Homo sapiens: one gene and its partner. The protein of the gene in region 1 purifies or fractionates together with the protein of each later gene. This does not show direct contact. Each region holds a gene or a part of one and is shown on either strand. Other genes may lie near its edges.

Region 1 (8,896 bases):
GAAAGGCTTTCTTTGGTTCCTAGTGCTGTGTAACTAACATAGTAAACATTGCCATTTTGTGTTAGTGTTAAAGAATGTTTATTATGAAACTAGATCAACTAAATATTTGCGTTGTTATGGTTAGATTTGAAACAACCCTTTGTCTACTTTCAGCTCTATAATGCTTATGTGGAAACTCAGGATCAGTTGCTTTTGGAGAAACTAGAGAACAAAAGAATTAATAAGTACCTAGATGAAATAGTGAAAGAAGTGGAAGCCAAAGCACCAATTTTGAAACGCCAGCGTGAGGAATATGAACGTGCACAGAAAGCTGTAGCAAGTTTATCTGTTAAGCTTGAACAAGCTATGAAGGTTGGTTCCATTCCTAAAATTTAGCCGTGGTAACAATACAAATGAGAAATGATTTACTAGGTATTTTTTTTTCTTAAGGTGATTGAGTCAGAAAAATCTAAATACGATTTTCAATAAACACATTTTGAAACTTATTAAACACTGCTGATCTCAAAACGTCATACCTTTATTTAGCAATTTTTATGTATTTCAATTTTTATATAAAATTGTGAAAGCATTTTAACCTTTTTTTAATGCATTTACTATGTTTTCCTTAGGATTCTCAACTAGAGAATAATAGCCAAATCTCCTAAAACTGCTCTTCAAATTAAAATAATCTCTGTGTAATAAAACTCTCCTATTTGCCATAATCATTCTTTATCAGACAGTTGTAATAGCCTGCCTAGAAATAATAATATTGTTTGACCATAGGTAGAACTCCTTTTTTATACCATTTCACAATTTGGCGTGTCTCTATATGCATTATTTTGTTATTGCTCATTTGCTTATTAGAAGTGTTAATGAAATTCATAAAGATTTTTTCCTTTTAAGAGATACTGATGGAAAAAGAGGTTATACTCTGAATGTTTTGCCTTATGGTACAACTATTAACATTACTGAGGGAAATTGTCAAGATTTCTTGAACAAGTTTTATGGAGGAAATTCAGTTAAATGAATTTATATCTACTCTTCTAAACTGATAAATTGTTTCCCTTTTGTTGGAAAAGAATATAAATATATCCCTATTTCAAAATTAAATCTCTGTTGCTGTTATAATTTAGAAGTCAGTTTAAATCCAAGTACTTTATTATATCAGCTGGTTTTTTTCTTCTTCATCAAGTGAAGTCTAGCAGTCCCGCCTGCCTGAGAATATTGACTTTTTTACCAGCAGTGTAGTTTGCAAGAGAGCCCTTGGATCCAATTAGATCTTCCTTGAATTTTTCTCTCTGTTGAAAGTGAGGGTTTTACCTGAAGCTTGTTATTGTCTGAATGAGAAATAACATATTCAAATTTATACAAAACTTCTTTTTTAGTGGCTACAATATTATGTAGGATTTTATTTAGTGTATAAGTTGATTACTGGTGGTGTTTGAGTATTGTATGTCTTTATTACTTGTATAAATCCTAGAAGGAAGTACAAAATTTTCACTTGAATTTACATTTTAAAGGAGATTCAGCGATTGCAGGAGGACACTGATAAAGCCAACAAGCAATCATCTGTACTTGAGAGAGATAATCGAAGAATGGAAATACAAGTAAAAGATCTTTCACAACAGGTTAGAATTTTTTTGTTTGTTTTCCTACTTTTAAAAACCTGACTGCCCAGTAATCTTTGAATCTGTTTGAAGGTACCTAAGATAGAACTACCATGTATGAAATTCTAATTAATTAGGAATAGTACTCGAGCAGAGTTGCACCCCCATTGTTTCTTTTCATAGCCCCTCCCTTTTTTCAAATGTTTGATAAATTTTTAAATTATACGTGTTGGTTGTAATAAATGAAGAAATAATTCAAAGATAAATAAAAGCTTTCTCCAATTTCTACCCCTCTACCCTCTGAAGTCCCAAAGTGTAGCTAAGTTAACAGACAGTTGTGTATTTTTTTCACATCCTTCTCTGTATGTGTATATACATGAGCATATATAAACATATGTAAGAATTATTTGATTTTACTGAAGTAAGACTGGACTGTATGCATTACTCTGACACTTAACAAGCAAATCAATAAATTAATGTCTCATTCATATATTTTACCCTAATTTGTGTGTGTGTACATCCACGCAATGCACAAATGTAAAAATTTCACATGAATGGCATTATATATATGCTTTTTGTTTAAATGTCTATTTTTCATGCTCTGCCCTATCATATATACAAAAGCACACACAAAAAAATAGATATTTGTGGGTTTTATTTGATCACTGTTTTACAAAACTGGAGCCATGTTTTGGGAATTGTAATTTGGCTACTTTGTAATAAGTAATAGCCTTCAATACATACTTAAAAGTAATTTTATTCTATTAAAATTTGATTGTTTAGATTTTAATATCCAAGGATGCTTTATTTTTAAAGATAATTTGAGGCAGTACAAGTTGAAGGTTTTATAAGTAATGTTTTAATTTGAAAACTTTCATTCTAAACTTGTCCAGAATTGTAACTAATACTATTTTATAACATATTAAAACTTTGTTTTTAGATTAGAGTGCTTTTGATGGAACTTGAAGAAGCAAGGGGTAACCACGTAATTCGTGATGAGGAAGTAAGCTCTGCTGATATAAGTAGTTCATCTGAGGTAATATCACAGCATCTAGTATCTTACAGAAATATTGAAGAGCTTCAACAACAAAATCAACGTCTCTTAGTGGCCCTTAGAGAGCTTGGGGAAACCAGAGAAAGAGAAGAACAAGAAACAACTTCATCCAAGTAAGTAGTCACATACCTCAGCTTGTTGAGCAAACATTTATGAAAACCTCAGCTAGGCTCAGTGTCTCATGCCTGTAATCCCAACGTTTTGGGAGGCCTAAATGGGGTATCATTTGAGCCCAGGAGGTCGAGACCAGCCTGGACGACATAGTGAGACCATGTCTCAAAAAAAAGTAAAAAATTAGCTGGGTGTGGTGGCACATGTCTATAGTCCCAGCTACTCAGGAGACAGGCTGAGGTGGGAGGATCACTTGAGTCCAGGAGTTTGAGGCTGCAGTGAAGCATGATCATGCACCACACTCTAAGTGGGACGACAGGGTAAGACCCTGTTGCCCGCAAAAAAAATCTATGTGTTCCTAACAGTGCTAGATACTTGGGATATAGTGATATAGGGAGGAAAGAATTGAGCAACAATACCAAACAAAAAATTTCTACTCCAAGACCTCAGGTTATGGGTAAGACAGATGTAATAAATAGATAATAAAATAGGCAAGTAGACAATTTGCATTCACTGTGATTAGTGCCTATCTGTGGGATCATAGCGGTAGAGGACTTGTCCTAGATTTCAGGGAGCAGACCGGCTTCATGGAGAACCTGGAGAACCTATGTAAGAATTAGTCAGAGGTTTTTTCAAAATACATGTATAATGTCTTCTAGAAGAGGAAGAATGGCTAAGAAAGCAAGAAGACTAGAGTTTGGAGTGAGTGGAACTGATTTAATTTTTACAAACAAATTTTTCAGATTGCATTGGTAAGTATAAGTACCTGAGTCCTGTGTGGTGGGGATTTAAAAAGTAGTTCATAAAATACTCAGCATGAAAAAAAATAATGAGAGAGACAAAAATGGTATGATGAATGGTAGGCAAAGATGCTTGGTTAATTACAGTAGAAATTACAATCAGTTAACTCTCAGTTCAGTCCTGTGAATTAGGCCGACTTTTTCTACAGAATCACTGAGCTTCAGCTCAAACTTGAGAGTGCCCTTACTGAACTAGAACAACTCCGCAAATCACGACAGCATCAAATGCAGCTTGTTGATTCCATAGTTCGTCAGCGTGATATGTACCGTATTTTATTGTCACAAACAACAGGAGTTGCCATTCCATTACATGGTAGGTTTTTATAAAGTTATTTTAAGGAATAATTTAGAAATGTATATTAAGGGATTAATTTTGCAACATAAGCAATAGCCACTCTAATGATGGTAGCTTCAAATTTGACTACCATATATAATTGCTTATAACATCCCATCAACTGTAAAACATACCATTATTTTATGTATTGCTAAAAAGAAATGCTTTCTATTGTTGAAAAAGGTGCATTTCAGAATCAATGAATTACAGTATTTATTTTGGTTATGTTTTAATGACCAAAACAGATATGTTTTAATAAAACATAAATATGGATTATGTTTTAACCCATAAATACTGAATTATCTCTAATAACCATCAAAAAATCTTAATACATTGTTTAGTAGATTCCTTATTTAAAAACTCCTATAATCTTATTGTTTCATTTCAATAAGTTTAGCTTGTTTATTTGATAATAGTGTATTTGCAAAGAAGCATTAGATTAAAGCTGATTTATGAAAGCCAACAAAGCATTTTATTAGTCTTTACTTTCCTGAAGCTTCAAGCTTAGATGATGTTTCTCTTGCATCAACTCCAAAACGTCCAAGTACATCACAGACTGTTTCCACTCCTGCTCCAGTACCTGTTATTGAATCAACAGAGGCTATAGAGGCTAAGGCTGCCCTTAAACAGGTAAAGATCACACCTTTGTCCTGGGTTAGGTTTTTAGAGAACACAGTGTTACCTTCTCATAATCTCCAATATTTAGTTGCAGGAAATTTTTGAGAACTACAAAAAAGAAAAAGCAGAAAATGAAAAAATACAAAATGAGCAGCTTGAGAAACTTCAAGAACAAGTTACAGATTTGCGATCACAAAATACCAAAATTTCTACCCAGCTAGATTTTGCTTCTAAACGGTAAGTTTTCTTTTGTTTCAAATTAATTAAGTCTAAATGTTATACTTTACAATTCAAATCATTTAAATTCAAGAGCTAATTTGCAATAGTGTTGCTTTTTTTGTGAACTGTGTTCCAGAATGAGAACCTCTGGTAGTTCATTTTTTTCATATTGATTAATGATTCTCTAGGCAGTGCTAAGGGTTTAGCTTGTTTGATAAGTTGAAGCCAGGCGCAGCAGCTCACGCCTGTAATCCCAGCACTTTGGGAAGCCGAGGCAGGTGGGTCATTTGAGGGCAGGAATTCAAGACCAGCCTGGCCACCATGGTGAAACCCCATCTCTACTAAAAATACAAAAATTAGCTGAGCGGCAGTGTTGCATGCTTGTAATCCCAGCTACTCAGGAGGCTAAGGCAGGAGAATCACTTGAGCCCAGGAGGCAGTGGTTGCGGTGAGCCAAGATTGGGGCCACTGCACTCCAGTCTGGGCAAGAGAGTGAGATTCTGTCTCAAAAAAATAAAATAAAATAAAAATAAGTTGAAGTTCATGTGAGGAATGTTGGTAGTTTACCTTCCTAAGATTAAAGGACTTGTTTCGGTAGGACTTAATTCTTTTAAAAATGCACCAGATGATGAGAGAAATGAGAGCAAATTTTATTCCACCTTTTCTATTCTAGGTAGAAGAGAAGCAAGTGCTATGTAGTTTTAGGAGAATTAATTTTCTTGGTCACATCCAAAGAAATAATAAATATTTCATGATTATTTGTTATTAAATTCATTGAATGCTTGTTAGTTTAGTTTGTTAGGACAATATTTATTTTTATATAGTACATGATAAAACTGTTTCTGTTTTATAGCAGGCAGGATATATTGCAGGCAGTTACCCCTATACATCTAATAGTTCAGCAACCCCAATTAAAGCACTTCTTTTTTCTCTGTTGATACCTCTAGCCAGCCATTATGTCAGCTTTCAAGCACATAAGAAAATAAAACTGAGGATTATAGAAGAAAAAAGGATTAGCAAAAATCCATCACTAACCCTGTATAATAACTTAATTTGTATACTGCATTGTAGTGGGTGTCTGGTGTTATCAATATTGCATTGTCATTACTTTAAATATAATTGATTTTTTAAAAATAAGATTAAAAAGTTACTTAGCATGAAATACTTTGCTTACTTAGAACTTGAACCACTACATTTGGAATTGGGAAAAAAGAATGAAGGTTTTACCTTATTACACAAGCCACTTCTTCATAAATCATAAAATTAACCCCTTTCCCATTTAGAAAAAAAAAAGTGCAGCTTGCTGCCAGCGCTCATTTAATTTTACATAAGCATGCTGTTTGAGGTTGAGGCAAATCTGACAGATTTTCAGTGTGAAAATAAAATATAAAAACTGTTCCTGGAGTTATTTCTAAGCAGAATTCAACTTAACAGAAATATGTATGATGTTACATTAGGATTAGAGACAATATTCTCAGGGCATTTGGGGAAATGGGTTAAGCTATTGTGAAATTTCTTCAAGGGATTAAGCTAGGATATCATTTCAGTTACTTGTAGAATTACTTTTTTCATACCAGTTATGAAATGCTGCAAGATAATGTTGAAGGATATCGTCGAGAAATAACATCACTTCATGAGAGAAATCAGAAACTCACTGCCACAACTCAAAAGCAAGAACAGATTATCAATACGATGACTCAAGATTTGAGAGGAGCAAATGAGAAGCTAGCTGTCGCAGAAGTGAGTCCAATATCCCTTGTCCAACTTGCATTATAAGTTGCATTTGACATTTCTTTAGTTTTTACTTTGAATTTTACTCACTGATAGGACTTAGGTATTTAAGAAGTTTGGAGGTTACACCAAGTAATTAATACATAGTTTGCAAATAGCCAGTGTGCGTTAGTGGGGTGATTGTTTCTATTAAGATAGAAGAGGGAAAGGAATTTGTTTTTCTGCTGGGCTAAGATATACTCGCAAGTCTTGCATTTCAAAATAAATTTGTAGGTCAGTGTTTGGTTCTAACAAAGACGTTTTTTTTTTTGGTTTTTTTTTTCTTGAGACAGAGTCTCACTCTGTCGCCCAGGCTGGAGTGCAGTGGCACGATCTTGGCTCACTGCAAGCTCCGCCTCCCGGGTTTACGCCATTCTCCTGCCTCAACCTCCTGAGTAGCTGGGACTACAGGTGCCCGCCACCACACCTGGCTAATGTTTTGTATTTTTAGTAGAGATGGGGTTTCACTGTGTTAGCCAGGATGGTCTCGATCTACTGACCTCGTGATTTGCCCGCCTTAGCCTCCCAAAGTGCTGGGATTACAGGCATGAGCCACAGTGCCTGGCCAGACGAATATGTTATTCATTCTTGCTCATCTGTAATAAAAAGCAATATAAAAATTACATTGCATTGAATTTATATTTCTGAATTTTAACTTGAATATAAATGTCCATTTGAAATTATTACTTTTAACTAAATACTTAGTTTTGTGATGATAAATTTTTTATATAGTTTTCTTTGTTATTCAGTTATCTCTTCTGTCTTTGATCATTACTTGTAAGCTAGGTATAGTTGTCCCCCATTTTACCTGTGTAAAACAGACTCAAGAGCTAATGTATAATTTGCCTATTTTGGGACAGTCATGAGAGATGGGTTGGTTAGGACTTGAACCCATGTCTTATAATGCTCTTATAAGGCTGTATTCTTTATTTTTATCTTGCTCCAACTCCATTGTGAGGAGTGGGCAGCAGCACTTTTTCAAACTGGTAGAGTGAATTTTATCATTGATCATTTATATGAATCTGTGTGTAAATATGAGTACTTGTGTGTAAATATGAGTACTTTGAGCTTTCAAAACACTCTCCCTGGTCCCCTTGAGACTCAGACTCTTGGGGTTGAGGGGAGGGAGAAACTTTAAATAGATCAATCATCACTTTTAAACAGGTACTTTGAAACCGGCTTGGATTCTAAAAGTTACATAATTTAATAGTAGTCAGGTATGAATGATTACAGCAGTCATGCAATTCTGCTTTCTTCTTCTCACATATTAAATTTTTCTTGCTGTTATTTTTTAAACTGTGGATTGTTAGAGCAAGGAACCATAAGTATTTGTAATTGAAAGATTTTTTCATTGATGATCCCCAATAATTTTTGCTTCGTATTTTAGCACATGAAACTGTTTTGTATTTCCTTATACAATGAGGAGATATAGTCCCTAAGAGCATTAAAAAAAAGTAGTGATGTATGAATCATTTTAATTTTATAATCTTAATACACTTGACACCATGTTTTTCAGCATTTTTTATTTCATTTCTACTTATGTTTAGGTAAGAGCAGAAAATTTGAAGAAGGAAAAGGAAATGCTTAAATTGTCTGAAGTTCGTCTTTCTCAGCAAAGAGAGTCTTTGTTAGCTGAACAAAGGGGGCAAAACTTACTGCTAACTAATCTGCAAACAATTCAGGTAACCAAATAAAAAGCCTATGTAGAAAAAATGTATAAAAGTTAAATTTAGATTTTTTTTATCCTCTCAATTTCCTTAATTAGAAAATTTATCCATCACTTTTGTCATCCATTATGATCATTGAATTTTGCAGTTTATTAAGACATTTAAATATTTTAAATAAAATATTGAAAGAGAATTGATTGAAACCATACATTGGTAAGTCCTCAGGTATATTTACAGTGTCCTGTGCAGTTTTACTATTTATAAGATTAATTCTTTGGTTTTTATTTTCTTTAAAACTTTGGGAAATCTGAATGACGATTATAATACATTCCATCTCTTTCCTGTATAATAGATGTTTTAATATAAAAAATACCAGAATACTTTCTTGATAAATACTGTAGATTTTAGCTGCTTCATGTAGAAATGGGTTGTAATATTGTAATTCTTTCTTGCCTTCAATTTTTATTTTTTTGTATTGCCTTTTTCTTAAGCATAACCAAAAATCTTTTCTTTGCTTTAGGGAATACTGGAGCGATCTGAAACAGAAACCAAACAAAGGCTTAGTAGCCAGATAGAAAAACTGGAACATGAGATCTCTCATCTAAAGAAGAAGTTGGAAAATGAGGTGGAACAAAGGCATACACTTACTAGAAATCTAGATGTGAGTCCATCAGAGTTCTGAATTTCTGTAGGGTGTTTATGTTCAGTAATTAATCTGGTGTGTGGACAGTCTGCCA
Region 2 (16,356 bases), on another chromosome or scaffold:
ATGCTTGAGGCCAGGAGTTCGAGAACACCTGGGCAACATAGCAAGACCCTGTCTCTACAAAAAATAAAAAATTAGCTTGGTGTGACAGCATGTGCCTGTAGTCCTGCTTACTTGAGAAGCTGAGGTGGGAGGATCACTTGAGCCAGGTAGGTCGAGGCTGCAGTGAGCCACGATTGCAGCTTTGCACTCCAGCCTGGGTGACAAGAGTGAGACCCTGTCCCCCCAAAAATAAAAACAAAAACAAACAAACAAATAAAACAAGGGTCTGGTTAACTATCTCACAACTGGAAAACCAGGCAGTCAATTAAAAAGGATGGGCAGGAGCTGTATGTGCTGATGAGAAAAAATCTCATGGAGACCCTGCAATTTACAGAAGTACATTGAGAGTAATTAGTTAAGTCCTGGAAAAAATCAAAGGAAAAACCATTAGGAGTTCCACCCCACAACACTACAGGACCTTAGTAGAGACAAGAAGGGTGGCCTGACTTGGTATCATCTTAGGACACTGGAATGAACTGGTGAACGAAGCACACCACAGGCTGGGTGGAATAGACCCTGGGATCTCCTTGGAAGAAGCACAGGCTCCAAGTAACTCAGCTGGCACTGTACTCAGCCCTGGCCAACTCTCAACGTCTCTCAACCCAGAGGGCTCAGCCACCGAGACAGCCCAGACAAAAAAAATTATTGGGGATTATAGGGTGGATTCAGAGGTTGCCTCAGACATCTCCAAAGCAACATAAAAATGGAGGTAGTGTAGCCTCGTAGTTACATATATAGATTCAAAAGACGTACTGCCTGGGAAACTCTATACTATGCAGTGTTATCTGTGTGACTTTGGACAAGTTAACCTCCCTGTGCCTCAGCCTCCTCAGCTGTAAAATGTGGATAATGACAGTTCTACCTCATAAGACTGCTGTGTCTTCCAATCAATTAACATGTCAAGTATTTAAAACAGTACCTGGCACATACATGCTTAATAAATGCCAGCTACTATCATTTATATTACATATTCTAAGCAAAAGAAAATCATAATCGGCCGTCCTGTCATTAAAGAACAAAGACAACCTTCAGACATTCTTAGAGAATTTCAGGAATATGAGACAGCATGCTTTTTCTTGAGGGAAGGAACCTCAGTACAAATTAAAAATACCAAGAGATAGGCCGGGCGCGGTGGCTCAAGCCTGCAATCCCAGCACTTTGGGAGGCCGAGGCGGGCAGATTACAAGGTCAGGAGATCAAGACCTGGCTAACACGGTGAAACCCCGTCTCTACTAAAAATACAAAAAATTAGCCAGGCGTGGTGGCGGGCGCCTGTAGTCCCAGCTGCTCGGGAGGCTGAGGCAGGAGAATGGCGTGAATCGGGGAGGCGGAGCTTGCAGTGAGCCGAGATCGCGCCACTGCACTCTAGCCTGGGCGACAGAGCAAGACTCCGTCTCAAAAAAAAAAAGAAAGAAAGAAAGAAAGAAAAAAAAAAATACCAAGAGATAAATCAAAAGAAAGAACTCGTGAATGGTGACGCCATGGTGGGGAACACAACTGGTGTTTTGCAGTGAATCCATGTAAATATACAACTAAAACTAAGTAGCTGAGGATATTATGGTTGCATAACAGATGTAAATGTTACAAAACCTGACAAGGTTAAAATGATATAAGCAAACATCATCTGAGGGTGGAAGAGGAAGTGTAAAAGAAGTCATCATTTCATCTTTCCCATCAGGGAGTTAACTGATTCAAAATTTACATGTAGTAAAGAAATTATAAGGGGGGAAAGTAACCAAAGTATCTTAATAATGTTTCATAATGTTTTTCCTTACTCGCAGTGATCTTTTAAAAGGTGACATACTCTAGTAGTAAAGAAACATTTGTCTGGAATTTGGCAATTCCTTTCGTTTCTCTTCAATTAGATTTTTGTCTGTGTTCATGTAAAATTCACATGTATACCTATGTAACAAACCTGAATGTTGTGCACATGTACCCTAGAGCTTAAAGTATAATAAAAAAATAAATAAATTCATGTAAAATTAAATATTTGTTTTTTAAAACAGCATGTAAAAGGTCATCCTATTCTCATTAGTTGCCTCTGTATGTCTCTGTTGCTTTCTTTCTCTCTCTCCCCCTCCCTTTCTCATATGTACGTACACATAAAGCAATGTTTGAAAATTTATCAAATGTCAACATTTGGTAATTTCTAGGTGGTGAGATTTTGAGTGTTAGTTATCTCCTTTTGAATATTTTTATAATAAGCCTATATCTTAAAAAAAAAAAACAAAACAAAACAGAGACGGAGTCTTGTTCTGTTGCCCAGACTGGATTGCAGTGGCATAATCTTGGCTGACTGCAGTCTCAACCTTCCCAACTCAAGTAATCCTCCTACCTCAACCTCCCAAGTAGCCAGGACCACAGGTGAATGCCCCAACACCCAGCTAATTTTTAAAATTTTTTGGTAGAGACAGGGTGTCTCTATGTTGCCCAGGCTGGTCTTGAACCCTTGGCCTCAAGCAATCATCCTGCCTCAGCCTTTCAAAGTGATGAGATCACAGGCATGAGCCACCACACCCAGCCAAGCATGTATCATTTTATAAACATAAACTTATTACATAAATAAAGGCTCTGTTAGCAGTACCAATTTCAAATAAGTCATATATAGCTGCAAAGTAACAAAAAAACTCATTCTATTAATTTATGTCAGTCTTTAAAGAATTATTAAAAATCCTTTCAACATAATCAACTCACCAGGAAGTGCTGCTTTACTTATAATTCCTGTCAGCAGAGCCAATTCCTGCAAAGACCCAGCACTAACATCCTGACAGCGCAGAATTGCTTGTATGGTATCAGAATGTGAAATAAGAAACTGCAATACCTAAGCCATTGAAAAGGAAGAGGAATAGAAAAAACAGGTAGAAGTAGAAAATTATATATAAATGCATAATTCATTTTATAAATAATGTTGAAGGAAGTAACCTTCAACTTTACCATAATACTCAGTAATACAATACTCAGCCTCACAATAAGTGAGGATGAGTAACAGATAAGCAATTGTTTTCTGCACTCACATATTTATCTCTTCAGGAAGTAAACATTTAAAATTCACAAGACTAAAGGATTATTTTAAAGCTTATAAGTTAATACATTTGGAGACTACTGTAGAAGAATATAACTCAGAACTACTGTATGAAAACTATTATCTGACCCCTATTTTCTTTATTGTTTGGCCAAATGAACTAGAGTAAGAATGTAATATAAATGGGTATAAAAATGACTAGTGAATTCAAGAAGCTGTTCTATGAAACAGTAACTAGCATGACATGGGGAAATCACATAAAAGCTTTTGTCTAATTCTTTTTTTAAAAAAATTCATTTTTATTATAATAGAGATAGGAACCAGGCATGGTGGCTCACGCCTGTAATCCCAGCACTTTGGGAGGCTGAGGCGGGTATCACCTGAGGTCAGGAGTTTGAGACCAGCCTGGCCAACATGGTGAAATGCCATCTCTACTAAAAATACAAAAATTAGTCAGATGCAGTGGTGCACACCTGTAATTCCAGCTGCTCAGGAGGCTGAGGCACAAGAATCACTTGAACCTGGGAGGTGGAGGTTGCAGTGAGCTGGAATCGTGCCACTGCACTCCAGCCTGGGTGACGAAGTGAGACTCTGTCTCAAAAAAAAAAAAAAAGAGAGACAGAGAGAGAGACAGAGAGAGAGAGAGAGAGAGAGAGAGAGAGAGAGAGAGAGATAGGGTCTCACTATGTTGCCCAGGCTGGGCTCAAACTCCTGGCTAAAGTGATCCTCCCACCTTGGCTTCCCAAAGTGCTGGGATTACAGGCATGGGCCACCACACCTGGCCATAACTCTCCTTTTGATGCGGTTAAAAAAAGGAGATATAAATCCTGACCTCCCAGCTCTACCCTTCCACTTTGGCATTTTATAATGTACACTCATGGAGTCCTCTTTCAGTATTTTCACTTAGGAATATCTCAACTAGCTTACAAACATTTTAAAGGCAGACTATATGCCAAAACAAGCCAAGGATGTGAATCACTCAGAATTGTGATCATTTTTGTTTTTTAATAAAGATTCCTAGCCTAAGCTTATAATGTCTGGTCACAGAACTCAGTCATCTGTGCTTCTCTAAGAGGCTCCTCAGGTGATTCTGCTTCAGTCAATACAAGATTGGTGTTAGGGAACCAGTGTCTTATATCATAATGTCCCACTTCTACTAAAAAATCTTAATCTCAATCTAGGGGAAGAAAGGCAAAGTCTCTGAGTTTTAAAAAGTACTAACTTGAAGACCACATAGGCCTAAAAGAAGTAGGACGTCAACCCAGATTGCTATGATATAAAATAAGGTGCCACTTTAGAACAGCAGCATCTACCTTGGTGAGATGGCCTAAGGCCTGATGGTAGAGAAAGCAGAAAAAATTACCAGAAATCAAAGTGTTTTAGGACACAGTTCCAAAATACAATAAAGCAATACAAGGTTGTAGATTCATGATAAGCCTAATCAATCAGTGAAAGGCTAAATTACATATAATATTAATTTTTAAAAAAATGTGTGTTGGAATGTTAGTGTTTCACTGAAAAGTAATCAAAATAAAACTAATTTCTGGTATTTAAAAAAATTTTGACAGCAAAATCACTCATTTAAATTATTTCATTCTCTATCATATATAAATGCAGTATTATCATCTGTCAGTCTCCCGAAGTGCTGGGATTACAGGCGTGAGCCACCATGCCCAGCCTGCAAGGCCTAGCATAGCCCTCTCTCAATAGATACCTGGTTAAATTACACTTTAGAAGCCAGCTTACTCCTATCACAATAACTGCTTTCTTTTATAGAAGAACAAATTTCAATCTCTTGTTTCCTGTCTTATGATTCTATTAATTAGCTACAGTGTTTCATTCAAACAACAGTATAAAAATGGACCAATGTAGTTAAGAACAAAGTACAGGGGCCTCTTTTCTCTACCCTGCTCTGCCACAAACATTAGGACTAACGTAAATTCACTTAAGCATTCTATGTGTGTAAGGTTTCTGTACTTGTAAAATGAGGATTTTGCTCTAGACAATATCTAAACAAAGGGTTCACCTTACCTGCCCTGCTGCCTGCAAGTGCTGGGCCATACTAGATGTGAGGATGACCTGGCACAGCTGGAGAGCTGGGAGGAGAATCTGGCGGTAGCGATCCACTGGGGTAGGGATGAACATTGGAGGGTCTCTCATGCCAAACATGCTTATTTCAACCAAACAAGGAGAAAACATTCCAAGAATTAAGGTATACTCTCGGCAATTCCTTAACACTGATATGGCAAATAAATCAGAGCCGGCTGATTAAGATGTGAATCAACTAGTGAGTACTCTGCATCCCATATATACATCCGCGGTCCAGAGAAAGATGTGTCTTCCTAAACTCATAGCTTAGTTAGTAAAAACAGTTATTTGAATTCTGAAAAATCTTATCGAGGAAAACCTATGTAATTTGACAAGATAATGCTTGAAACTTCCAAAACATTTTTATTCTTCTCTAAAGCTTCCTTGGGCCATATAGGCTGTTAAGTAAGAAACAGATTTAAAAAGCTACTTTCCCTAAAATTCTCTCTCCTCTACCCAAGCCAAAAATCCACTATGCTGCCCATTGTATAGGGTGAGTACCACTTACCCAAAATGCTTGGTACCAGCAGTGTTGCAGATTTTTTTGGATTTTGAAATATCTGCATTATACATACTTACTGGTTGAGCACCTCTAATCTGAAAATCCAAAATCCAAATTGCTCCAATGGGCATTTCCTTTGAGCATCATATTGGCACTCAGAAAGTTTGAGATTTAGCAGCACTGCAGATTTCAGATTTTCAGATTAGAGAAGCTCAATCTGTATAAAAATAAAACAAGATTTAAGAGTCAAAATGAGGCTGTAAAATCACTTAACCTTTCAGAGTAGGTCTCAGAACATCGTATTAATAAGCTAATATTTATTGTTAATGTTTATATTTAAATTTTTAGACCAAAAAAATGGCTGCCTATTGAGGGGGAACGAAAGCAGAATAAGAAAATAAGAGACAGGCTTTGCACAGACAAGTGATAATAGCATGCCATGAACTAAAGAGTATTTAACTCAACCCACTTTACCTAAGGTGAAAGTAATAACTCTCATGTTTGAAACTTTAGACCGCAATACTAAAATAAATGTTTTTCCCTGGAGGTAAAACAGTTCTGTAGTTAAGCCTTAAAAATCCAAACATTCAAGTTGCTAATAGATCCTTTTAAAACAATTACTAAACTCAAACTAAGTATTATTTACTTCTAGGAAGGTATGCTATCTACCTAACAATGCTGCAGTCATGTAAACAAAAAAGAAAATCAAATCAAATTTTCCACATTCAAATCGAATGTGAAACTAAGAAATCAGCTGAAAAGCTTGAAACTTGAAAACAATTCCATTTGAAGCTTTTGAATTAGCAAGCAGTAAGCAAAATATTGAAATCAGAAAAAATATATATATAATCTGAAATTCTATTCAAATCATCCGGAACAGGAAATCCATAACAAATTATAATTTTACTACAACTCTTTAAAAGATAGTGTAACTGCAAACAAGTATTTCAATTGAACATAATAATAACATTGGGCAAGTACACATTTACTAAATTCTCTCCCACTCCTACCTACTTTTTCCCTAGTAGCAACTTCCATTTATTAGTAAATGACAGGGGCACAGTATGACCAAAAAAACCCACACCAAGATGAAAGAGAATTGCTAAGCGGCAAAATTATGTTTGGAATTTTTTCTTCCCTTAATAATCCTTTACTGGGAGTTTAACCAAATTAATCTATACAGACACTTACCTCTGCGGGTCCGTTTCTGGGCGCATGTCATAGACTTGGCATTGAGCTAGTCTCACAATCACCCCTGATCTTAGCAGCTCTAATGCACCCTGCTGTATCTTTGCCACTCTTGTGAGAAATGCCTGAGGAGTTACAAGAGAAAAATCATCAGTGCTGAAATCATGTCCAAGGGCCTCAGAGAAAAGTGCAACACTTTGATGGCAAATTTCTCATCCTTAGTTATCACTGAAGAGAAATCTGGGCTAGTGACAGGTTACATTATACCGCTTTCTTCCTAGGATTTTCATGAGGACTCAGTGTTCAACATATCTAAAGCGCCCACAGACAGTAGCTTGCATGATTCAAGTATTCGTTTACAGTGTGGGTCCTGTTATTATCATGTGGGCCCATGGAGGGCAAGGAATTTTGTCTGTTTTGCTAACAGCTGTGTCTCTAGTACCTAGTGCCATGCCTGCCGTTTTGCAGGTATTTAATAAATACCTGTTAAATAAATGAAGGAGGAAAAAGGAGTAAATGAAGAATCTAAAATTTCAGTGCTTCTATTATCGTAACATTTGTGATCCTTTTAACTAGGAGGAAAAAGAAATTAAAACAGATTTGCAGGCAAAGAAACAATGAATTATATACTATATTGAAAATGCTGTGTTTAGAATAGAACTAGCATATCTACATGGAAATTTTCAATAGGCAACTACTATAGTCTAAATTGTATTGTGAGAGGACAATTTTGCTCTGTCCTCACGGAGCACTGGCTGTCATATTGCCATCATGAGCAACCTGAGTGAGTGAGGGAAGCAGCAGTCCCATTATCCAGCTATCCCTTTGAGGATCATTTCACTCATCTTTTGCACACTAGGAAGATTCCAAAGTTTAAAACTCCTTAAAAAAGGATTCCAGCTTATGATAGAAATATTCAGAATGTATGCCACATTAATTTTCTTTAATACATCTATAGCCAAGAGAAAACGACTTCTTGATCTAACATCAAATGTCTAGAAAGCCTTACCATTTTAGATTCATAAGTATAAAGTGCTTTTAAAAGGGGAGGCTGTGGGGTGAGTAAGCTCTGCAAAGTACGGTCATCTTCTACCAAGCTGTCTACGAGGACCTTCAAGTAGCCACTGTTAGAAAGATACAAAAGCCACTGCTGCTGTTTATCCACGGAGACAATTCTATCAAGTAGAGCCAGGGCCAGCATCTGAAGGAAGAATAAATTAAAGTCCAAAACATGTAGATGCTACCAAAATCAACAACAGTAACTGAATTTATCTGACATCAGATATGAAATATGAAGAATGTTTTTCATAAAGAGAATGTTACTTGCAACAAAATTTCCTTTTTATTTTTTTTTGAGAAGTTAAAAACTATGGCTCCAGAACCTCAATTTATCAATAAAGGAAAGCTCTCAGGTAAAGATGTATTTCCAAAACAAAACCTAACACGTTAAACTAGTGGCATTAGATGTATTTTAGTAGACTCTAACATTGCTTGTTAGAGAAAAGAAATTTTTTTAACAGCTGTTTTTTCTCACTGTGAAGTTTTATAATGCTCATTACAGAAAACACAGAAAAATAATAACTAGGTTGGGCACAGTGGCTCACCCCTGTATCCCAACACTTAGGGAGGCAGAGGCAGGTGGAGCACTTGTCAGGAATCCGAGACAAGCCTGGCCATTAAAAAAATTAGGCCGGGAGCGGTGGCTCACGCCTGTAATCCCAGCATTTTGGGAGGCCAAGGCGGGTGGATCACGAGGTCAGGAGTTCAAGACCAACCTGGCCAGGATGGTGAAACTCCATCTCTACTACAAATACAAAAAAAATTAGCTGGGCGTGGTGGTGGGCACCTGTAATCTGAGCTACTCGGAAGGCTGAGGCAAAGAATCACTTGAACCTGGGAGGCAGAGGTTGCAGTGAGCCGAGATCGTGCCACTGCACTCCAGCCTGGGTGACAAAGCGAGACTCTGTCTCAAAAAAAATAAAAATAAAAATAAAAATTACCCCAGCATGGTGGTGCATGCCTGTAATCCCAGCTACTCGGGAGGCTGAGGCAGGAGAATTGCTTGAACCTGGGAGGCAGAGGTTGCAGTGAGCCGAGATCATGCCACTGCACTCTAGTCTGGGCAACAGAGCAAGACTCTGTCTCAATAAAAAGAAAAAAGAAAAAAAAAGTAATAACTACACAATCTGATAAATACAGTTCATCCATTTTGGTCTGTCTCCTACCAGTATTTTTTCTATGCATACAAATATTTTAAAATTTTTAAAACATAACTTAAAAGGTGGCCGGGTGTGGTGGCTCATGCCTGTAACCCCAGCACTTTGGGAGGCCGAGGCGGGAGGATCACGAGGTCAGGAGATCGAGACCATCCTGGCTAACATGGTGAAACCCCGTCTCTACTAAAACTACAAAAAATTAGCCAGGCGTAGTGGCGGGCGCCTGTAGTTCCAGCTACTTGGGAGGCTGAGGCAGGAGAATGGCGTGAACTCGGGAGGCGGAGCTTGCAGTGAGCCGAGATTGCGCCACTACACTCTAGCCGGGGCGACAGAGCGAGACTCCATCTCAAAAACAAACAAACAAACAAACAAAGAAACGTAACTAAAAGGTTATGCCAGTTTATTTTTTAAAATCCTATTTCCTATGGTCTTCAAAAACATGATTTAATTGCTACATAATTTTGCTACATAATTTTCCATTAAGAAGAAGTTATCTTCTCACTGCATCATTACCAGTGTGCCACCATACTGTACAAGAAATATAAATACAAATTCTCCACAAAGCAATTAGGCAGACAAAGATCTATTCAGTACAAGGCAATTTATTCAGCATTCTCTTAACCAAAGATCTTTATTAAGCAGCGTTTCTGTTGTTTCTACCAGTCAACCTCAAAATTAGCAAGAAGATAATTCTGAAAGGCAATTCTGAATTAAGATTCTAACAAAATTAAACACAACATATGAATAAATAAAACAGAAGTCTCAAATTATAGCAAATAAGAAAATACAGTATATTATAAAAAATGATTCTTAATATGTACCATACATTATTAAAAGTTGAATCAATTTATTTTATTTTATTTTTTGCAGCAGGGTCTCACTCTGCAGCCCAGGCTGGAGTGAAGTGCCTCGATCACAGCTCACCGCAAGCAACCTCTGCCTCCTGGGCTCATGCAATTTTCCCACCTCAGCCTCCCAAGTAACTGGGACTACAGGTGCATGCCACCATGGCTGGCTAATTTTTTGTATTTTTTGTAGAGACGGGGTTTCACCATGTTGCCCAGGCTAGTCTCAAACTCCTATACTCAAGAAATCCACCCACCTTGGCCTTCGAAAGCACTGAGATTACAGGCATGAGGCACCACACCCAGCCGTGAATCAGTTTATACCTTAATAAGTCAAAATACTTATTCAATTATAATACTAAATAAGAGTTGCTTTACCCTTCCAATCTCATGACCATCACAAGCATCTCGACAGACCACTTCCATGAGGGCGGCGCCATAACTTTCAATAATGGCTATGTTTTCTCGCTGTAATTTGCTAAATACATCTTCAGGGGCTGTCAGCCTTTCCCACATGGTTTTCTTGGCTAAAAGGATTAAAACAGAAAAAAACACTCCAGTAAAAAGCAGTGTAATAACTGAGTAATTATACCTCACATGCTAGGTATGAGCTAAGGAAGAAAAAAAAAAAACGCAACAAAAAAATCCTTCCATCACTGCTTGTACACAAAGGCCCACTGACCGGTGGGTCCAAGCAGGTTAACTCTAATAACACAATGCACCTATTTCATGCATGTTTCATAACACTAAGATAATAATTGTACCTGGAAAAGGATAAATCATTCTGAAAGAGATCAAAATGAATTACAAGACTCCATGAGAACCAACGTCCTGTATTTATCCTGCTCATCAGTCTTTTTTTTTTTCCTTCTTTTTTTTTTTGAGACAGAGCCTGGCTCTGTCTCCAGGCTGGAGTGCAGTGGCATGATCTTGGCTCACTGCAGCCTCCACCTCCCAGGTTCAAGCGATTCTCCTGCCTCAGCCTCCCCAGTAGCTGGGACTACAGGTGCATGCCACCATGCCCAGCTAATTTTTGTATTTTTAGTACAGATGGGGTTTCATCATGTTGGCCAGGATGGTCTTGATCTCCTGACCTCGTGATCTGCCTGCCTTGGCCTCCCAAAGTGCTGGGATTACAGGTGTGAGCCACCGTGCCCAGCCGCTAATCAATCTTTTATCTTTTATTGAGATCTTTTAAAATTGCCAGGCGTGGTGGCTCACACCTGTAATCCTAGCACTTTGGGAGGCCGAGGCGGTGGATCACTTGAGGACAGGAGTTCAAAACCAGCCTGGCCAACATGGTGAAACCCCGTCTCTACTAAAAATACAAAAAATTAGTGGGGCGTGGTGGTGCACACCTATAATCCCAGTTACTGGGGAGGCTGAGGCAGGAGAATCACTTGAACCCAGGAGGTGGAGGTTGCAGTGAGCTGAGATCGCACCGCTGTACTCCAGCTTGGGCTACAGAGTGAAGCTCTGTCTCAAAAAACAAAAGAAAAGAAAAGAAAATTTAGCTAGAAAGGATCAGGTACAATGTAGACAAAAATTTGCCTCCAAAAAAATCAGATATTTTTATTCTTTTTTTTAGTTGAAATACTTATTAAAAATAAAAGCACACCTATTATAAAAATAAAAGCACAACCATTATACAATGATTAGGAACAGTATGATCATACATTTTATGTAAGACCCACAAACATACTCTTATGTGAGACTCTTTAAAAATTTCACAAGTACATTAAATAAAGCAATAACTTGTATTGGAAACTAATCTCATTTTTTCCAACTGCTACATAGCAGCAGTTTTTAAATTGGCATCTTGATGACTTCTTATAAAAAGCCTATTGTAGAGCCCCACCTAGTGGTTAAGTGGTGACTTGGCCAATTCAACTAAATGGAATGTTAAGAAAAACACACACACAAAAGAAAAATGTGGGAGGTGCTGAGTGGAGAAATCCCATTACTATCTCTTTTCTTAAAAGAAGCTCATGTTTGCTTAAAAAACTTCTCTAAACTATTCTGTTATTTTTCCTCATCTTACAAATATTCTCATGCATTATTTATGTGGGTGCTACATGCCTATAAATCTACCATTTGGCTATTACTACCTTATAGGGTACTATGTATGGCATAAAATACAACCACCATAAGGATAATGAGATCAAGTCAACCTTACGTACACAGTGGTTTTTAACAGTGTATACAAAATAACACTCACAAAGGTGAAGAGCCCAAAGAAAATCCATTATCAGAAGGTGCTCTGACAACTTCTTAACAAATGGCAGAATAACTCTGAATAACTTGATTGAACATCAAATGTCTATAAAGTATATAAAGCATTATATACTGATGTGTTGAACACTTAATAACATTTTCATGTCTTAAGATTAGTTTCAATTAAAAATGCTAACTTTTTAGAAAGCAGCATTTAGCAATATTTTAAATGTGCCTAACTTTTGACCAAGAAATTCCACTTCTTGGAATTTATCCAAACAAAACCTCACTAGTACAAAAAGATACATGTATACTATTGATGAGTTTATACTGGAGAAGGTCATTCATTTGAATCTTTTTAAAATAAAAGTACATACTTTTACACATGGAAATTCCACCATTAAGCAGTATCCTTTTTGAGAAATATAGGCATATAAAAAAAGTTGATGTAGCATTTTTGTAATAAAAATTTAGAAACAATTGAAATGCCTGTGAATAAGGAAAATGGCAGATAAGTGTTTCATCCATATCATGGAATAACAAAGACTTTTGTGTTTCTTTTTGAGACAGAGTTTCACTCTTGTTGCCCAGGCTGGAGGGCAGTGGCGCAATCTGGGAAACCTCTGCCTCCTGGGTTCAAGCGATTCTCCTGCTTCAGCCTCCTGAGTAGCTGGGATTACAGATGCCTGCCACCATGGCTGCTAATTTTCTGATTTTTAGTAGAGATGGGGTTTCACCATATTGGCCAAGCTGGTCTCGAACTCCTGACCTCAGGTGATCCACAGGCCTCGGCCTCCCAAAGTGCTAGGATTACAGGCGTGAGCCACCATGCCAGGCCGAGATATTTTAAAAGAATCAACTAGATAAGTACTCTGATGTAGCACAAAGGAAAGAAAGACATTGGACCATTCTATGTAGAGCACACTGTTCAGTCGGACTTGAGGCAAGTGAGGGAGTTACAGAAGTATATAAAGCTAAAGTATTATTTGAAGGTTATCTTAAAAGTAGTACTCATGTACTACTTCATAATTCTTAAAAACTAAACATTCTTCCTCAACTTTTGAGTAAATGCTTTAAAAATGACACTAACACTCATTTTTTACAGTTGTGATTAGTCAAAAGATGGAGAAGTGATTTTTTTTTTCAATTTAAAGTAACCATCTCCCAATCCAGAAAAGATTAGGAATTGATCTCATTCTACCTGCTTCTAAGGTGTCTGGTTCATCAGGTCTCTGGGCAATCTGTAAGTAATAAAGCAGAGAGCCATACAAGTGAGTCCTCACTCGTTGGAATCCACCACCTAGGGAGATTAGGAAGATGTCAAATGAAAATCTTTTCTCAATTAAAGTTAAAACAAATACAAAAGATAGAATTTATAGACAATTTAAATGAAAAAAACCTGTCTTCAAAATGAAGTCTAACAGTTTCTTCAATATGATGTAAAGTGAAGAATCTCCAATAGAAGCAAAACCCACTAATGGGTTCTCTTCAGGAGGAGGTGAGGTGAAGCAACTATCAAGCATAAAAGCGTAATGGGCCTCTGCTGGTCCCAAGACTGATGTTTCCTTCTGTTCAGTGAGGACGGCCTGGCTTAGGTGAGCAGTCAGTGTGAACACTGCCCCGGCGACCACAGGCATTAACTCTTGCGCAGCTTCATCATCCAGTATCTTAAAGGACAAGGGCAAATTAGAGTGAGAATCCTGCTTTCAGCTATAATCATTAACAAATTTCATAGCTTTTTTTTTTTGAAGACAGGGTCTCGCTCTGTCACCGAGGCTGGAGTGCAGTAGCATAATCTCAGCTCACTTCAGCCTTGACCTCCTGGGCTCAGGAGGTCTTCCCACCTCAGCCTCCCGCAACTGTGACTACAGGTGCACACCATCATGCTCGTAGAGATGGAATCTCACTATGTTGCCCAGGTTGGTCTCAAACTCCTGGGCTCCAGTGATCCTCCCACCTTGGCCTCTCAAAGTTCTGGGATTGCAGGCATGAATCACTGCACACAGCCCATTAACAAGTTTTATATACATTTAGCTTGTCAACTATGGTAACAATATAAGAATGGAATACAGAAATTAGTCAAGAAAGAAAGAAAGAAAGAAAGGAATCTAATATATACAGAGAAATTTAAACATGATGCTAGGTAATGGGTGTTCTTAACCAGAAGGGATTCCTATCAGAATTCCCTAGGGAGGTTTTCTTTTTGAAATTCACATAAATGGTCTCACCACTACATTCAGTAGGTCTGGGGTGGGCTCTGTCCATGTGAATTTTTACAAAGCTCCCGAGATAACTCAGACACACACTCTGGTTGAGAGCCACTACTGTACAGAATTAATCCCTTTCTCAAGGAAAGTCTTAACGTTGGTATTGCACAATTCTATTTTACTCCCAATCGAAAATGGAAAACAATTAGGATGCCAAAATATATTTGTTTAAATGATACATTCGTTCAGCAGTATAAAGTATTTTAGGAAGTACGTCACCTTATCATGCACATCTTGTAAAATATCACGAATAATCAGTTGTCGATCCTCTGCCTGAATGAGGTCCTGGGGACAAGCTGTCAGTATAATTTCTACTAGTTGCCTCCACGACTCCAGAGCATGACGTTTTGCATGAAGACACTGCAGCAATTTATTTCTTCCTACCACATACTGAAGTACAGTGCTGATTTCCTAAAGCCACAGGAATTGAATCACAAGGTTAAACAGGCAAATAAGATCAGTTATCTGTCAGTTACTCAGAAAATATTTATTTGGAAACCTACTACATGCATGCCAGGAAGCAGGTATCTTTTCATATTATTTCAGTAGCCAGGGCTATAAAAAATATTAACATATAAGGTGTGTATGTGTGTGTATGTGCATGAAAGGTAGGGGACAGAAGTGGCATAGATAAATATGTATTTTTTGACACCATCTTCTTTCTCCTTGTACCTGTCTACTTATACTTGCTTACTCTAGAGCACTAGAATTATCTAAACTCCAAGTTCAATGGCATGTTTCTCTGACATCTCTTTTATTTCTTTGCCTCTTGCTTTGGCCTGGCCGGCTGTATCTCCATTCATGTGGTTCTTCCCACCTGACCTCTTATCTGTAACTTTCCACTTGTGATGACAAATGACCCTCCTCTCTCACTGATGGGGACCAAGTGAAGTCTAATACGAAATATGGTCAGGTTGCAAATCCTTAACTAGCCTAGCAGAAAAGGTGTTATTTATTTTGGCATACCAGATAGTTCAGTTTATAAAAGTTATAAAATCAAAAGTGAAAGACTCCCTAAATGTTTAATTTTTAGGCAGCTTACTAATTAGCAAACTACATGTCAATATACTATTTTAGTCTTTTCACCAGCAACCTAAGTAGTTAGAAGTTTGAAACGAACACATACTCAATAGAGCTTACCTCCATTAGTAGAGGTCTCTGTCCTATGGCTGCCATACCCTGAAGGGCATTTACTTCAGCTACAAGAACCCTATGAAGAAGCTGGATAATTAGGAAAAGAAAGAAAAATAAGACATTTCAGACACTGGTAGAACAGTAACACCTAGCAATTACCATAAACTGCCCTAAAGGGAAAGGTGTCAGATACCTTTATATATAATCTAACAGGAGCACTGTCCAATTTCCAGACCAAAATATTAAGTATCCCTTTTCAAGAAGTTAGGTGATATATTAAGTTTTATTTCAGGGATATTTTACAAAAATCACAGTCCTTCCTATAAACTACTAAACCAATGTCTCTATCAGAAAGAAAACCTATATGGTTCTATTTGTTTCTGATGACTTAAAGTCTGAGCCACTTGACACTGCAGATATGTACTTTAAAGCAATCCTCACCTTGACATTGCAGACTGTCTGTCCCCGTAAATTCTTGTGTTCACAGTTAGCAATAACTTGTTCAATCTGGGCCCGATCAAAAAAATCCAACTGCAAAGGCTCAGGGATCTCCTGACTGAAGTCAATCGAGTCAAGAATATTTAGAATTTTTCGACGTACTAGAAATAATAAAAAGTAATTTGATTTTACTTGGGACATTGAAAAGAAAGGCAAGCCATCATATTCAGTTGATTTTCAAAGACAGTGCTATTTTCAGAAAGAGCATAAAATAGTCAAGAAACTGAAAACTGTATTGGAATCTAAATTTGATTTTATTTCTGATACATCCATTAACAAAAATATTTTCTTTCCTTTTGTATAATCCTATTATAAAAAAAATTTTCAGGTGGCAATTAATCCT

Evidence for each region.
Region 2: the proteins of TPR (region 1) and NUP205 purify together in Homo sapiens (affinity purification with western blotting; 2 studies listed by BioGRID, with this or other methods). This does not show direct contact.

The regions. Positions count from the first base shown.
Region 1 is NC_000001.11:186,351,254-186,360,149, reverse strand, and holds part of TPR (nucleoprotein TPR), read left to right. Parts: intron 1-153; coding exon 154-351; intron 352-1,499; coding exon 1,500-1,607; intron 1,608-2,526; coding exon 2,527-2,753; intron 2,754-3,700; coding exon 3,701-3,864; intron 3,865-4,381; coding exon 4,382-4,515; intron 4,516-4,591; coding exon 4,592-4,740; intron 4,741-6,299; coding exon 6,300-6,462; intron 6,463-8,039; coding exon 8,040-8,174; intron 8,175-8,679; coding exon 8,680-8,820; intron 8,821-8,896.
Region 2 is NC_000007.14:135,616,848-135,633,203, reverse strand, and holds part of NUP205 (nuclear pore complex protein Nup205), read right to left. Parts: intron 16,115-16,356; coding exon 15,957-16,114; intron 15,603-15,956; coding exon 15,522-15,602; intron 14,793-15,521; coding exon 14,601-14,792; intron 13,782-14,600; coding exon 13,514-13,781; intron 13,415-13,513; coding exon 13,316-13,414; intron 10,428-13,315; coding exon 10,279-10,427; intron 8,041-10,278; coding exon 7,849-8,040; intron 6,965-7,848; coding exon 6,843-6,964; intron 5,232-6,842; coding exon 5,093-5,231; intron 2,861-5,092; coding exon 2,734-2,860; intron 1-2,733. UniProt on the Homo sapiens protein: Plays a role in the nuclear pore complex (NPC) assembly and/or maintenance. May anchor NUP62 and other nucleoporins, but not NUP153 and TPR, to the NPC.